2 separate regions of the Homo sapiens genome follow, and region 2 is linked to region 1. The links come from fine-mapping of genetic effects on gene expression. Tissue or cell type: whole blood. Region 1 holds a variant in brackets; the other region holds the start of a gene. All regions are shown on one strand. Distances are from middle to middle.

What was found. PIP is the estimated chance that this variant, and not a neighbour inherited with it, causes the effect.
Region 2: MYOF starts here. The variant in region 1 is fine-mapped to the expression of MYOF in whole blood (TOPMed, PIP above 0.99).

What each region holds. Positions count from the first base shown.
Region 1 is chr10:93,512,556-93,517,555 of GRCh38, reverse strand. CEP55 (centrosomal protein 55) reads right to left here. Exons shown (of 9, transcript NM_018131.5): 5 at 2,001-2,151; 6 at 308-621. Among named protein-coding and RNA genes, the nearest start is that of CEP55, 18 kb to the right of the region's middle. The variant G/C (reference allele first, on the strand shown) is at 2,423.
Region 2 is chr10:93,478,044-93,485,731 of GRCh38, reverse strand. MYOF (myoferlin) reads left to right here and starts at 3,398. Exons shown (of 54, transcript NM_013451.4): 1 at 3,398-3,625. The coding sequence starts at 3,538.

The sequences.
Region 1 (5,000 bases):
AATTTCCTCCATTGAGAGGAAAAGTCACCCACCTCACTGGGTCCTCCTCATCATCAGGTCTTTGTCCAAATGCCATCTCCTCAGAGAGGCCTCCACTGGTCCCCAATTTCCCTTTGTCATGTCACCCTGTTGCATTTTCTTTAGTTTCCTTATTTATTGTTTATGGTCTGTTTCTGTTCTGGAATATAACTCCCATGAGGGGCAGGAATTTGTTTTGTCCCTAGCCAGTTCTCTAGTGGTCAAATAGTCCCTGACACTTAGAAAGTGTTCGGTGAACACTCTGAATTATGGATCTGGTTAAGTTTACCTGAGATAAGAGCTCTTCGGATCTCTTCTTCTCTTCTTCAAGTTTTCCCCTAGCAATATCATTCTCTTCCCTGAGTTTTTGTATCTTCTCTGTTTTATGCCTATCATCTTCCAGATGTTGCACATCTGCCCTTCTTTGTGAATACAACAGCTGATTTAAATTGTGAACTTCTTTTTGGGTTTCTTCATATTTTCTTCGAAATTCACTCAGTTCAAAACTCAGCTGAGTTATGGTTTGTCGTTCAACCTCAAGATCTTTTTTTGCACTTGCCAAGAGATCGTTGTAACATTTCTGCTTCTCTTCTTGAAGATAACCTATGACAAACAACATTACGGCACAACTCACTTTATAAAATAAATAATATTCCTGAAAAGAGAAACATCAAACATCTAAATGAATCACACTATTTCCTTAGTTTACAACATGAAAAGTCAAGAGATAGGGACTATGGTTGATATTTGATGAAATAAAAAACAAGTTCAGGTATACTATTTGAAGTTATAAAACTCACAAATAGAAGAACTAAAAACAGTAACATCTATTCTGTTGGGAGGGAAAGTCTCAAGAAGTTCAATCAACAAATAGGAACACAAGCTCATTATTTATATGTGGAGATAACTATCAAAATTAAAAATAGAAATATTAAGAGCAGTTGCCTGATGGGAGGAAGAAACGGGGATTGGGATGGGAAAGACAGGGCAAGGTCCTTCTTAACTATTACATTATTCTAACAAGTGCTTATATTGCTTTGATAAAACAGACACACAGAGAAAGAGAGAGAGAGAGAGAGAGAACTGTATTACCAAAGAAAAGAAATTAGACTTAGCCCATAACTAAAATCCTGCTTTTACATAAGCACATATTTTATAGAAGCAACTTAGTGCCATTAGGGCTGACAGCTTTGAAGTGCCTCCAGAGACATTTATAGTTTCTTTTTAGCATTAGCTTTGTTTTAAGTATTCAAATATGATTCTCCAATCTTATGAGTCTTGTTCCCCTTTCTTTAGACTTCTCTATAAAATTCAAGGCTTTGGTCCCCTCCAAACTGTCAGTCTTTTAAGGAGAGCATTGCATGGAGTTTCTCATTTTTCTTTTCTTAGCTTGTCATCTAGAATTGCTAAACCTATTTCTTCATCTGTAAAATGAGAATACTGACCTTTCCTGCCCCGCCTCTTAGGGTTGCTCTAAAACTCCACTAAGATCTATGTAAGGGAAACTGCAAAGTGCTTGGCAAAAAGACAGCATCGTGAATGAGAAATTTCATCTCAATTCTATACCTGAAGTTCAAATGATTTAAGGATCATCTAAAAAAGGCATTCTTTCTCCTGGGGTTGATATGAATAAGTGCTGAAGGGAAGCAAAGTGAAAAGAGAATTGTGACAAGGCCAACTCTGGGGGAAGTAAAAGCTGGAGAAGGACTTTGAAAAAGGGGAAGGACATTCATGGGTAGAGAGAACTGAATGTGATTTCAGAACTGCCAAAGATCACCCATTAGCCTGTGTTGGTACTTTCTTTTGATCTGAAAACGTTAGGAAATAAAACTTGCAAAAATGGTATTTCTTACTTCAGGGCTATAAGACTTGCTCTTATTTTACTTTCTAACACATATCTATAAAAATCTAAATTTGATGAATCATTCCTTTTGGAAAATGTCAGGCCTATCCCTAGAGAACATTTTTATACCAGTCAGTACCTTCTGATTCAGGCTTTTTTGTCTGCTGTGGGAGTGAATGAGCAGCTGTTTCCGTTTTCTTTTCCAACTCAAAGATCTTTGCTAAAAGTCCTTTTACATAGACTTCCCGCTGCTGATCATACACGAGCCACTGCTGATTTTTCTCCAGAGCCTTAATGGGAAGATGAAAGAAAATCAACAGTAAAATAAAAAAACAAAATCTTAAAATGGGCAAGAGAGTCCAAGTGATGTAGTCTTTTCCAACAAAAACTCTATGGCTCATAGACTAATTCTGGGCAACCATTCTATGTTACATGCCTTCAGAATACATAACAACATGACACCATCGTAGTTTATGTGGGATTAAGTTCATTTGTTTGCTTTTTTCAGTACACAACTTGCTTTGTGTGTGCGTATATGTCATTCTCTGTAAACTAAAACAC[G/C]TTTTATGACAGACATGGAGATGAACTGCTCAGAATCCCCCTTCAAGAGCCCTGCCCAGCTGGCTGGGTGCGGTGGCTCTCGCCTGTAATCCCAGCACTTTGAGAGGCCGAGGGTGGTGGATCACCTGAGGTCAGGAGTTCAAGACCAGCCTGGCCAACATGGTGAAACCCTGTCTCTAATAAAAATACAAAAATTAGCCAGGCATGGTGGCGCGTGCCTGTAATCCTAACTACTCAGGAGGCTGAGGCAGGAGAATCACTTGAACCCGGGAGGTGGAGGTGGCAGTGAGCTGAGATCATGCCCCTGCACTCCAGCCTGGAAACTCCAGTGAAACTGCGTCTCTCAAAAAAACAAACAAAAAAAAGAGGATCTCTGCCCAGCTGCATGGTGAGTGATTAGCTGATTAGCTGACAGCCTCCATCTGTTAATTCCTTCAAGTCCCTGTCAGCTTTTGAGCTGAGCTGGATTGGCCCCAGCCAACAACTGAACAAGTGCCTAACTATTGCTGCCCAACGAGGACTCTGCTTTTCAGCACTCTCTGCTCTGGAGCCCCCCATGGGGTGACAGAGACCTTGTTAGGTTTTCATCATGGTCTGATGGTCTCCCTGGCATAACTACTTCCTTTTTCCTTGCACAGATCTTGCTCCCCAATAAACCGTCTGCACTCCTAACATCATCTCAGTGTCTTCTTTAGAGGATCAAACTTAACAGCTACCTTCTCTCTTTACTACCAACTTTCATCCTTTATATGATCTTTTATAACCCAATTAAAAACTCCAAGCTGCCGTCACTCACCTGTTTGTATAGGGGTTTCATACTTACAGTGAGTTGAATAATGTCCCCCAAAATTCATGTCCACTTGAAACCTCAGAATATGACCTTATTCAGAAATGGGGTCTGTGGGCTGGGCAGTGGCTCACACCTGTAATCCCAGCACTTTGGGAGGCCGAGGCGGGCGGATTACTTGAGGCCAGGAGTTCAAGACCAGCCTGGCCAACATGGCAAAACCCTGTCTCTATTTTTTAGCCGGGCATGGTGGCACGTACCTGCAGTCCCAGCTACTTGGGAGGCTGAGGTAGCAGATCACTTGAATGCGGGAGGCGGAGGTTGCAGTGAGCCAAGATTGCGCCACTGCACTCCAACCTAGACAATAGAGTGAGACCCCGTCTCAAAAAAAAAAAAGGGGAGGGGGAGGCTTTGCAGATGCAATTAGTTAAAATGAGGCCATACTGGAGTAGGGTGAGCCCTAAATCCAATGACTAGTATCCTTATAAAAAGGAGCAGACACACAGATATACATAGAGAATGAGGCCATGTGAAGACAGAAGCTTTGTATGGCAGGGATTGTAACCAGTTCATTTCACACCAGAGGACTTGCTATAAATCCAGAGCTCATAGTAATCTGAACTTCGAAGAACCTATAACAGTATCAGCAAAGCTCATTTTTTCAAGAGTGGAATACAGATTTCTGATTACTATTTGGAGAACAACACAGTAGCTCTTAAAATGATCTATTATGCATAGATAAAATTCTTCTATTTAATTTCAATCTGACAATACAATATAGTGTTTCCTTTTATAGCAGCCACTCTTTCCAGACCTCTAGTTCCACAATGAAGAGGACATAAGGAGCTTAAAGGTTTTGGGTGTCTATCAGGGCAACTGCTTTCCGGTAAGAATTTCCATCCTTTAAAGACATTGATTGAGTCCCATATCCAGAAAGATCTACATGTATGGAAACTCTTATTAAGTCTAGAGAGTTTCTCTAAGCTTTGTTAGGCTCTTTCTACTAGCACCCTACAAACTCTTGAGCAAAGCTCCTGGGTATGGCACTTAAAGGATTTTCAGTGTCTGTTTGCTATAGAATTAGCAAATGAATTAGGAAGACAGAAACAGTCTCTAAAATCAAAGACTTAGCCCAGGAGCCTCAGCCACTTTACCAGACACTTTTCTCTCTGCATCCATTAGGGAACAGTAGTCCTCTTTACATGGCTTAAGAGTCCATTTGTCAAGTGGAGATATTGTATATCCATTTTGTATTATATATCGTCAATAGTGTAAAGCTCTGTGGATGGCTGTTTTCACTGTAGTAATTTGATTTTTGATTTAAAGAGTCTGTCTTATTGAAACTTCGTGGTAGATATATGATTGTTCAATGTATTTTCTTTTAACTTTTGTGTATGTTTGACATTTTTCGTAATAAAAATTGGGAAAAATAATCATAAAAGTTGGGAAAAATAATCAGTGAACTTAGTACAGTTGAGAAGATTGCTAGGATTCTTGGCCTATCTTAAAACAGGCTGCAGTAGTCACTCTCTTATTCAGCTCCACTGCCATCCCCAGTGAGGTTCTTACTCAGAACCTATGCATCTTTCAAAAGAAAGGACTCATGAGAAACCCAGGATCAGATTTAAATTTACTTGATAAGAGAGGAAGCACTGTATGACTCACAATGCACATGTATATCCAAATACCTATAAATTATAGTGTGTTAGATACTAAAGATACCTAATTTTATACTAAATTTTACATTTGTCCACATTTAAGTAGTATTTTAATACAAATAATTTAAGTCAA
Region 2 (7,688 bases), 33 kb after region 1:
ACAGGTGCATGCCACCACACTCGATTAATTTAAAAAATTTTTTTTAGAGGCAGGGTCTCACTATGTTGCCCAGGCTGGTCTCAGACTCACCTCAGCCTCCCCAAAGTGTTGAGATTACAGGTATGAACCACTGTGTCTGGGCTGAAACATGTTTTATCTTGCTTATTTAGATTTATACTCCACCTGTAATTGATTATGTATTATGTAAGGTTGGAAGTCATTTGTCTTTTTCTCCCACATGAATAGGTAAAAGGCAAATTAAAACTCCAGTGAGATGCTATTATATGCTCACCAGAAGGGCAAATGTAAAAAATCTAACATTGGTTAAGTATGACAAAAATTTAGAACAACAGGAAGTCTCATACACTGCTGGCAAGAGTACCATTGTGGAATATAATTTGGAATTACCTTGTAAAGGTGAAGAAATGCATACATTCTCTGGCCCAGCAAGCAATTCCACCCATAGATTAGACTCTAAATAGACTCATGCACATTTGTGCCAGAACAGTCTTGGACTGTTCAGAACAGCACTGTTTGTAATAGCCCCATTCCCTGAACTGTCCAAATGTCTGGCAGTAGTAGAATGAATTAATCAAATCTGGAGGCCAGGCGCAGTGGCTCATGCCTGTAATCCCAGCACTTTGGGAGGCTGAGGCAGGCGGATCACGAGGTAAAGAGTTCGAGAACATCCTGGCCAACATGGTGACACCCCATCTCTACTAAAGATACAAAAATTAGCCGGGCGTGGTGGTGTGCACCTGTAATCCCAGCTACTCAGGAGGCTGAGGCAGGAGAATTGCTTGAACCCGGGAGGCAGAGGTTGCAGTGAAACGAGATCGCACCACTGCACTCCAGCCTGGGCTACAGAGCAAGACTCTGTCTCAAAATAAATAAATAAATAAAATGTCAGAAACTCATACAATGAAATGCCATATAGCAACAAGAGTGAAGGAAGTAGAGCTACATGAATGAATTTCACAATATAATACTGAGAAAAAAGAAGTCAAACACGAAAGAATCCATTCTGTATGAGTCCATTTCTATAAAGTCATAATACAGCAAAGAATTCACAAAGTATGAACACATGTATGTGTGTACCTATATATATGAATATATGTGTTGTATGTAAAGTTCATAACATACAAAAGAATTTATATCACCAAACAAAGGTCATGAGCAAGCAAACCTAAACTGTTTTGTTGTTGTTGTTTTCGGTAAAAACTACAAAGAAAAGCAAGGAAATCATTACCATAAAAATCAGGAGAGTGGGCCAGGCATGGTGGCTCATGCCTGTAATCCCAGCACTTTGGGAGGCCGAGGTGGATGGATCACCTGAGGTCAGGAGTTTGAGACCAGCCTGGCCAACACGGTGAAACCCTGTCTCTACTAAAAATACAAAATTAGCCGGGTGTGGTAGTGCACGCCTGTAATCCCAGCTACCTGGGAGGCTGAGGCAGGAGAATTGCTTGAACCCGGGAGGTGGAGGTGGCAGTGAGCCGATCACCCCACTTCAATCCAGCCTGGGCAACAAGAGTGAAACTCCATCTAAAAAAAGAAAAAAAAATCAGGAGAGTGGTTACCTCTGGGAGAAGGAGGTGGATATGATATATGGGGTATTCCAGGGGCTTCTGGAGGACTGGCAATGTTCTGTCTTGACCTGGATGCTTGTTAAACTGTCACGTTTATGTAGTATGCATTTTTCTGTAAATATATTTCACAGTAAAAATGGCAAATAGAAAGCAGCCAGATAAAATAAAAGTAATAATCTCTATATTCCACTAAAACTGCCAACATGTCCACTAAATACAATAATGAACACAGCACTGGGTAATTGGTTCTTTGCTTTAAGCCTTGGAGAAACTCGTGGAGACAGAAGAATTCTTGTAGGTTAAGTCATGCTTATTCAATGTACTTGAAATGTTTATTTACAGGTGGGTCTGCTTGATGTGTGTTCTAAAGCAAAAAGAAGCCCAATGTTTCTTCATCCCAAGTTTTAGCCTTTTCTTCTGAAATATAACGAGATCCTGATTTAAAGTCAGCCTGCACTAACAGAAACGCTGTGAGACCACAAATAAGCATGAACTTCTTACATGTGCAAATTACTGTGTGCTTTGTGCCAGCTCCTATGCTATGACCTTTATCTTATAACAGCCTTTATCCCCAGTTCATAGATGAGGAAACTGAGGAAGAGAGGGGTTAAGAAACTTGCTCGCCAGCACGGTGGCTCAAGCCAGTAAAGCTCAAGCCAGTAAAGCTCAAGCCACGGAGGCCGAGGCGGGCGGATCACAAGGTCAAGAGATCGAGACCATCCTTGCCAGCATGGTGAAACCCCGTCTCTACTAAAAATACAAAAAAAAAAAAAATTAGCTGCGTGTGGTGGCGCACGCCTGTAGTCCCAGCTACTCGGGAGACTGAGGCAGGAGAATCGCTTGAACCCGGGAGGCAGAGGTTGCAGTGAGCCAAGATCGCTACACTGCACTCCAGCCTGGTGACAGAGCGAGACTCCGTCAAAAAAAAAAAAGAAAAGAAAAGAAAAGAAAAGAAACTTGCTAAGATGACGTAGCTCAGGGTGGTGAGGCAGAGTCTCACACTCAGATCTGGCTGACTAACCCCAGGCCGCCTCTTGTGATCTCAGCCAAGCTGCACTGTCTTCATGCACCCTCTGGGACAGAAAGACACCATGGGCAGCTGTAGGTCCAGAAACAGTGGGGAGTCACTTCTCCATTTTCACTGAAGGCAATTGGCAGCATTTGAAGAGCCGGGAAAACTTAGGCGCCCAGCTCTCACCTCTGAAGGGGTTTTGAAGAAATTCTATGTTCAGTCCTTTATATATATATATATATATATATATATATATATATATATATATATATATATATATATATAATTATTTATACATATATGTAATTATTTATATATCCCATGCCTGGATCGCGTTTACTTGAAATAAACGCTGTCATTCGTTTGCCGTCCAGTAAGAGGCACCCTTTAGCTGCTTTAAAAAAGCTGAACATAGGGTTACTGAGTGGGTGTGTTCAATGGCGTGAGAAGTAACAGCGAAAAGTCAAAAGCAAATAATGACTAAAGTTTTAAAACTCCTTGAAACTCAGAAAAGAATGAAAGCAGTGACGGAAAAATCAATTAATTCAGTTTCACGAACCATTGCTAAAAGGCAGCAACATTTTAGTGGTTTCCTGACCTACCCGTATTTCTTAGCTCCAAATTCATGTTGGTTTCATTTGTCGCACGGAATTATTTTTAGTTTAGGGTTTGTCCTTTTCACTTCCACATTTCCCGAATTCATAAGTCTGTGCCTGCGGCACTGCGTAGACGCGGGGAGTTCGGTATCAGTTTACACGTTGCCTTCAGTAAAATCCGCCAGAGGTCCACCCATTTTGCCTTTTCCCCTTCCTTGCCCTGGGAGAAATCCTCCCTTCACTGGGAGAGAACTTCTCTCCCAGGGCGGTGCGACCCGGAGCTCCAGCGCCCTAGTCTCCACTTCGTTTGCTGAAACTTGCTTTCTACCAGCTAAGAACCATGCTGCGAGTGATTGTGGAATCTGCCAGCAATATCCCTAAAACGAAATTTGGCAAGCCGGATCCTATTGTTTCTGTCATTTTTAAGGGTAAGAAAAAGTTTTCTTCTTTTTCTGAAGTCCTGTTTTGGAATGTTAGTTTCTTGAGTCACCTTCTTGAAAAGTCTGCATTTAGACAGCTGATGAAGCCAAGTCTCTCCAGCAGCGTTTGTTACCTGCGCAGGACAGGGGAGAGGACCCGTTTCTGGGGAAGGCATTTAATTTTCTCCAGGGCTTGAGACTCATGGAATGACCTGATGTTTTAGCTCTAAGAGTGTGATTTCTGTAAGCTCTTGGCAGAAAACGTATTTGCGAATCACTAAATTTCAGGTATCAACAAACATCTGTATTGGTTCAAAGTAAGTTTCAGTAGTCTTAGATGCATTTTTTCTCTGCCTGTGAGAAATGGGTAAAGGAGGAAGAAGAGCAATTAAATTGTTGGAGACACCATTACTCCTTGAACCAGCCTGACGCTGCTTTGATTGTCACTGGGTTTCTGGGAGGTGGGATGGGTGAAGTTCATAGTTTTATTGAGTTTTCCTGCCCTTTTGTGCCTTTGTAATTGTTTTTATATCTAAACTGTTGGGGAGCTTTTTTTGTACATTCTGTAGCTTTTAAATTGCTCATTGAGGAAAGAACTCTGGACAGCTAGTTTGCAATTTGGGGATCTAGTTCTATCTTGCCTGCTGAATGACCTTGGGCAAGTTACTTCATTTCTCTGGGATCTCAATTTTCTTTTCTGCAAAACAGGCGAGAAGGGTTTAGACAAGATCATCTCTAAAAACCTCATGGTTGGCTGAGCACAGTGGCTCCTCAACCCTGAGCCAACTTTGGGAGGCCAAGGCAGGAGGATTGCTTGAGCCCAGGAGTTTGAGGCTACAGTGAGCCGTGATCACGCCACTGCACTCCAGCCTGGGTGTAAAAATAAATAAAAATAAAAGGCTCATGGTAATTTTAAAAGGCTATTTTTCTATGACACTTGATTGCCATTGCAGGGGAGGGGACAGGAATGCTTGGTGTCATGGTACAATTTGATGTAAGTGACTTAGTTTTGGCTAAAGTGGGGTTTCTAAATCTCAGTGTGGAGGCTTTATCTATTTTGTTTGTCATTGGTAAGACTGCCAACTCACTTCTTGGCAAGAGGGATGGGAAAGAGAGGGAAAGGCAGAGAGAGTGGGAGCATGGATAGACATGTGTTTCCTGACCATGCCTTGCTACATTTCTCGTTTCTTCCAGGAGCCTGACTGCTACTCCCTGTCAGTTCCTGAGGCATCTATACCTTTCGCCTTTCTGTTTCCCGTTTTTCCCCTTTATTTCTCTTCTTAAACCTCTCTCTCTGAGGATGAGCAAGAAAATGAAAGAAATGAAACTCAAAGCTGGCTGGCTGGGTGTGGTGACTTCTGCCTGTAATCCCAGAACTTTGGGAGGCTGAGGTGGGTGGATCACATGAGGGCAGGAGTTCGAGACCAGCCAGGCCAACATGGCAAAACCCCATCTCTACTAAAAATACAAAAATTAGCCGGGCATGGTGGCACATGCCTATAATCCCAGCTACTCGGGAGGCTGAGGCAGGAGGATTGCTTCAACCCAGGAGGAGGAGGTTGCAGTGAGCCGAGATCATGCTACTGCACTCCAACCTGGGCAACAGAGTGAGACTCCGTCTCAAAAAAAAAAAAAAAAAAAAAAAAAAGCTGGCAAATTGTTGGTTGGTTAAAAAAAAAATCTAAAGGGCAAAAATTGGATTTAAAAAAAATTTAAAAAAATTTTTTTGAATAAGACTGGGTCTTGCTATGTTGCCCAGGCTGGTTATAATTCCCTTGCTCAAACTTTCTTCCCATCTCAGCTTCCCAAAGTGTTGGGATTACAGGCGTAAACTACCACGCCCAGCTTAAAATTGGGCTCTTAAAGGACAATGAGGTTTGAAAATCTGGCTAGTGAATATCATGGACTCACGTTATGTCAGAGTTTATTTACATGTGTTAGGTTTTATTAATTTTTTGTTTTCTTGAAGCAGTTACATAATAGAGACATAATATGAAGATTTTACATCCTTCATCATTGACATATAAAGACATTAAAATATATTTGGATCAGTCCGATCATGTAATTATTTAAGTATTATAGATTATAGAGGAATTGGAGTTAATACTATATTGAAATCTGACTTGTTATTTGTCTGGAGTTTGTATGCATTGATGAAACATTTTAAATGATGAAAAATATATCTAAGTCAATGAATGCAAACAATCAATTGAAAGTGGAAAACTTCAGTTAAGTTGGCAAATATAGTCTATACAAACAATTACACATTTAACTTTAGTCTCTTTTCTGGCCTCCTTTTTTCATACAAATCGAGTGGTAAAGTCATTCATTCATTTAGCTAACAAGCAACCTGACAGAGGAAAGGGCACTCAACTCAGAGTAGGAACATCTGCATTCCAGCTGACATTAACTCAATATCTGATTTAACCACCTGGGTCTCCAATTTCTCAGCTGTGGCATGATGGGAACTGGTCTTTAGATGCCTTCCGTCTTTTAGATTCTAATTTTCTAGTTCCAGGTATTGAGTTAGCTGCTCTCAGCAAGATGTGAAATGCATTGCCTTAGGTGCTGGAGGGGATATAGCAACAAACACAGCACTCTTCTTGCTTTCAGTCTATGTCGGTGGTTTAAAATCCTGGTGATGGCAAACCCTTTACAGGTGTGTTCCCAATTTTGAGCACTGCGTAAAATTAAGTAACATTAAGTTCTGACTGAACTGAGGATACTTATAGCAAAATACTGTCCATCAGAGGGAACATGGAACAAAGGCAGACACACTTCATAGTGTGGAGTGGGGCAGGGTATGGTAAACTGGAAAAAGCCCTACCATGCCTGTAGTCCCAGCTACTCAGGAGGCTGAGGCAGGAGAATCACTTGAGCCTGGGAGGCGGAGGTTCCAGTGAGCAGAGATCGCACCACTGCACTCCAGCCTGGGAGATAGAACGAGACTCCATCTCAAAAAAAAAAAAAGGAAAAAGCCATACCAGAAGATCAAGGCGGCATCAAAGAAAGTCCCTGTGTTAACAGAAATATGTAAACATTTTGCCTCTTGGGTAAATAAACAAAGTCAGGGCAGTAAGCAGCTCTTCTCAAACTATAAGACGGTGAAGAATGGCCAGGGGAAGTGATTGTTAATGGTGAAGCTCGCATAGACACTGTGAGGCCCTATTAGGCTATAGCTACACTGTACTTGGGATTGTGCTGTACTGACAACCAACTGGTTTACAGTTGACCTCAGTTTTTCGTGTTCAAACCCTTTCTTTCTTTCTTTCTTTTTTTTTTTTTTTTTTGAGACTGTTTCACCCTGCCATCCAGGAGGGAAGAGTGCAGTCAGTGGTGTGATCATGGTCTCGAACTCCTGGGCTCAAGCGATCCTCCCACCTCAGCCTCCTGAGTAGCTGAACTATAGGCACACACCACCATGCCCAGCTAATTTTTAATTTTTTTTGTAGAGACAGGGCCTCACTCTGTTTCTCAAGCTGGCCTTGAACTCTTGGGCTCAAGCAATCCTCCTGGCTTGGCCTCCCAAAGTATTGGGATTACAGGTATGAGCGCCCAGTTGTGTTCAACCGTGAGTGACCCTTCTGAGGCTGTCAAATTACTCAGGGCCTGGTAGGAACTAGGAGGATCTGGGGGTTGCTGTAGTCCTGGTGCATGGTTGTTGGTGATGTTCAGCAGCGCAGGTGTAGATTATGAAAGCCACAACGCTTATGTAATTTTTCATATCCTTCGGGTACACCAGGTTCCATGAGCCAGATCCGAATTGAGGCTGGAGTGAGTGCCTGTGAGCCAGGGGTGGCCATTCTGCCCTAAGTTCCATGCGGACAGCCAGGCTGTGAAGCTGAATCTAGCTGAGATTAGACTACACAGACCTCTGAGACCAATTTCAACTCTGAGACTTGATGATTCTTCCAAACAGTCCTCCAAACAGAACAGGTTGTTAAAAAACTTTTTAATTTTAAATAATATAATATTTTTAATTTCTAAAATTAAAAATGCATGTAGACATAAGATAAACAACCCAGAAGGGATTATGCAACTAAAAAGTGAAAATTCTCCCCACACCTCTTCT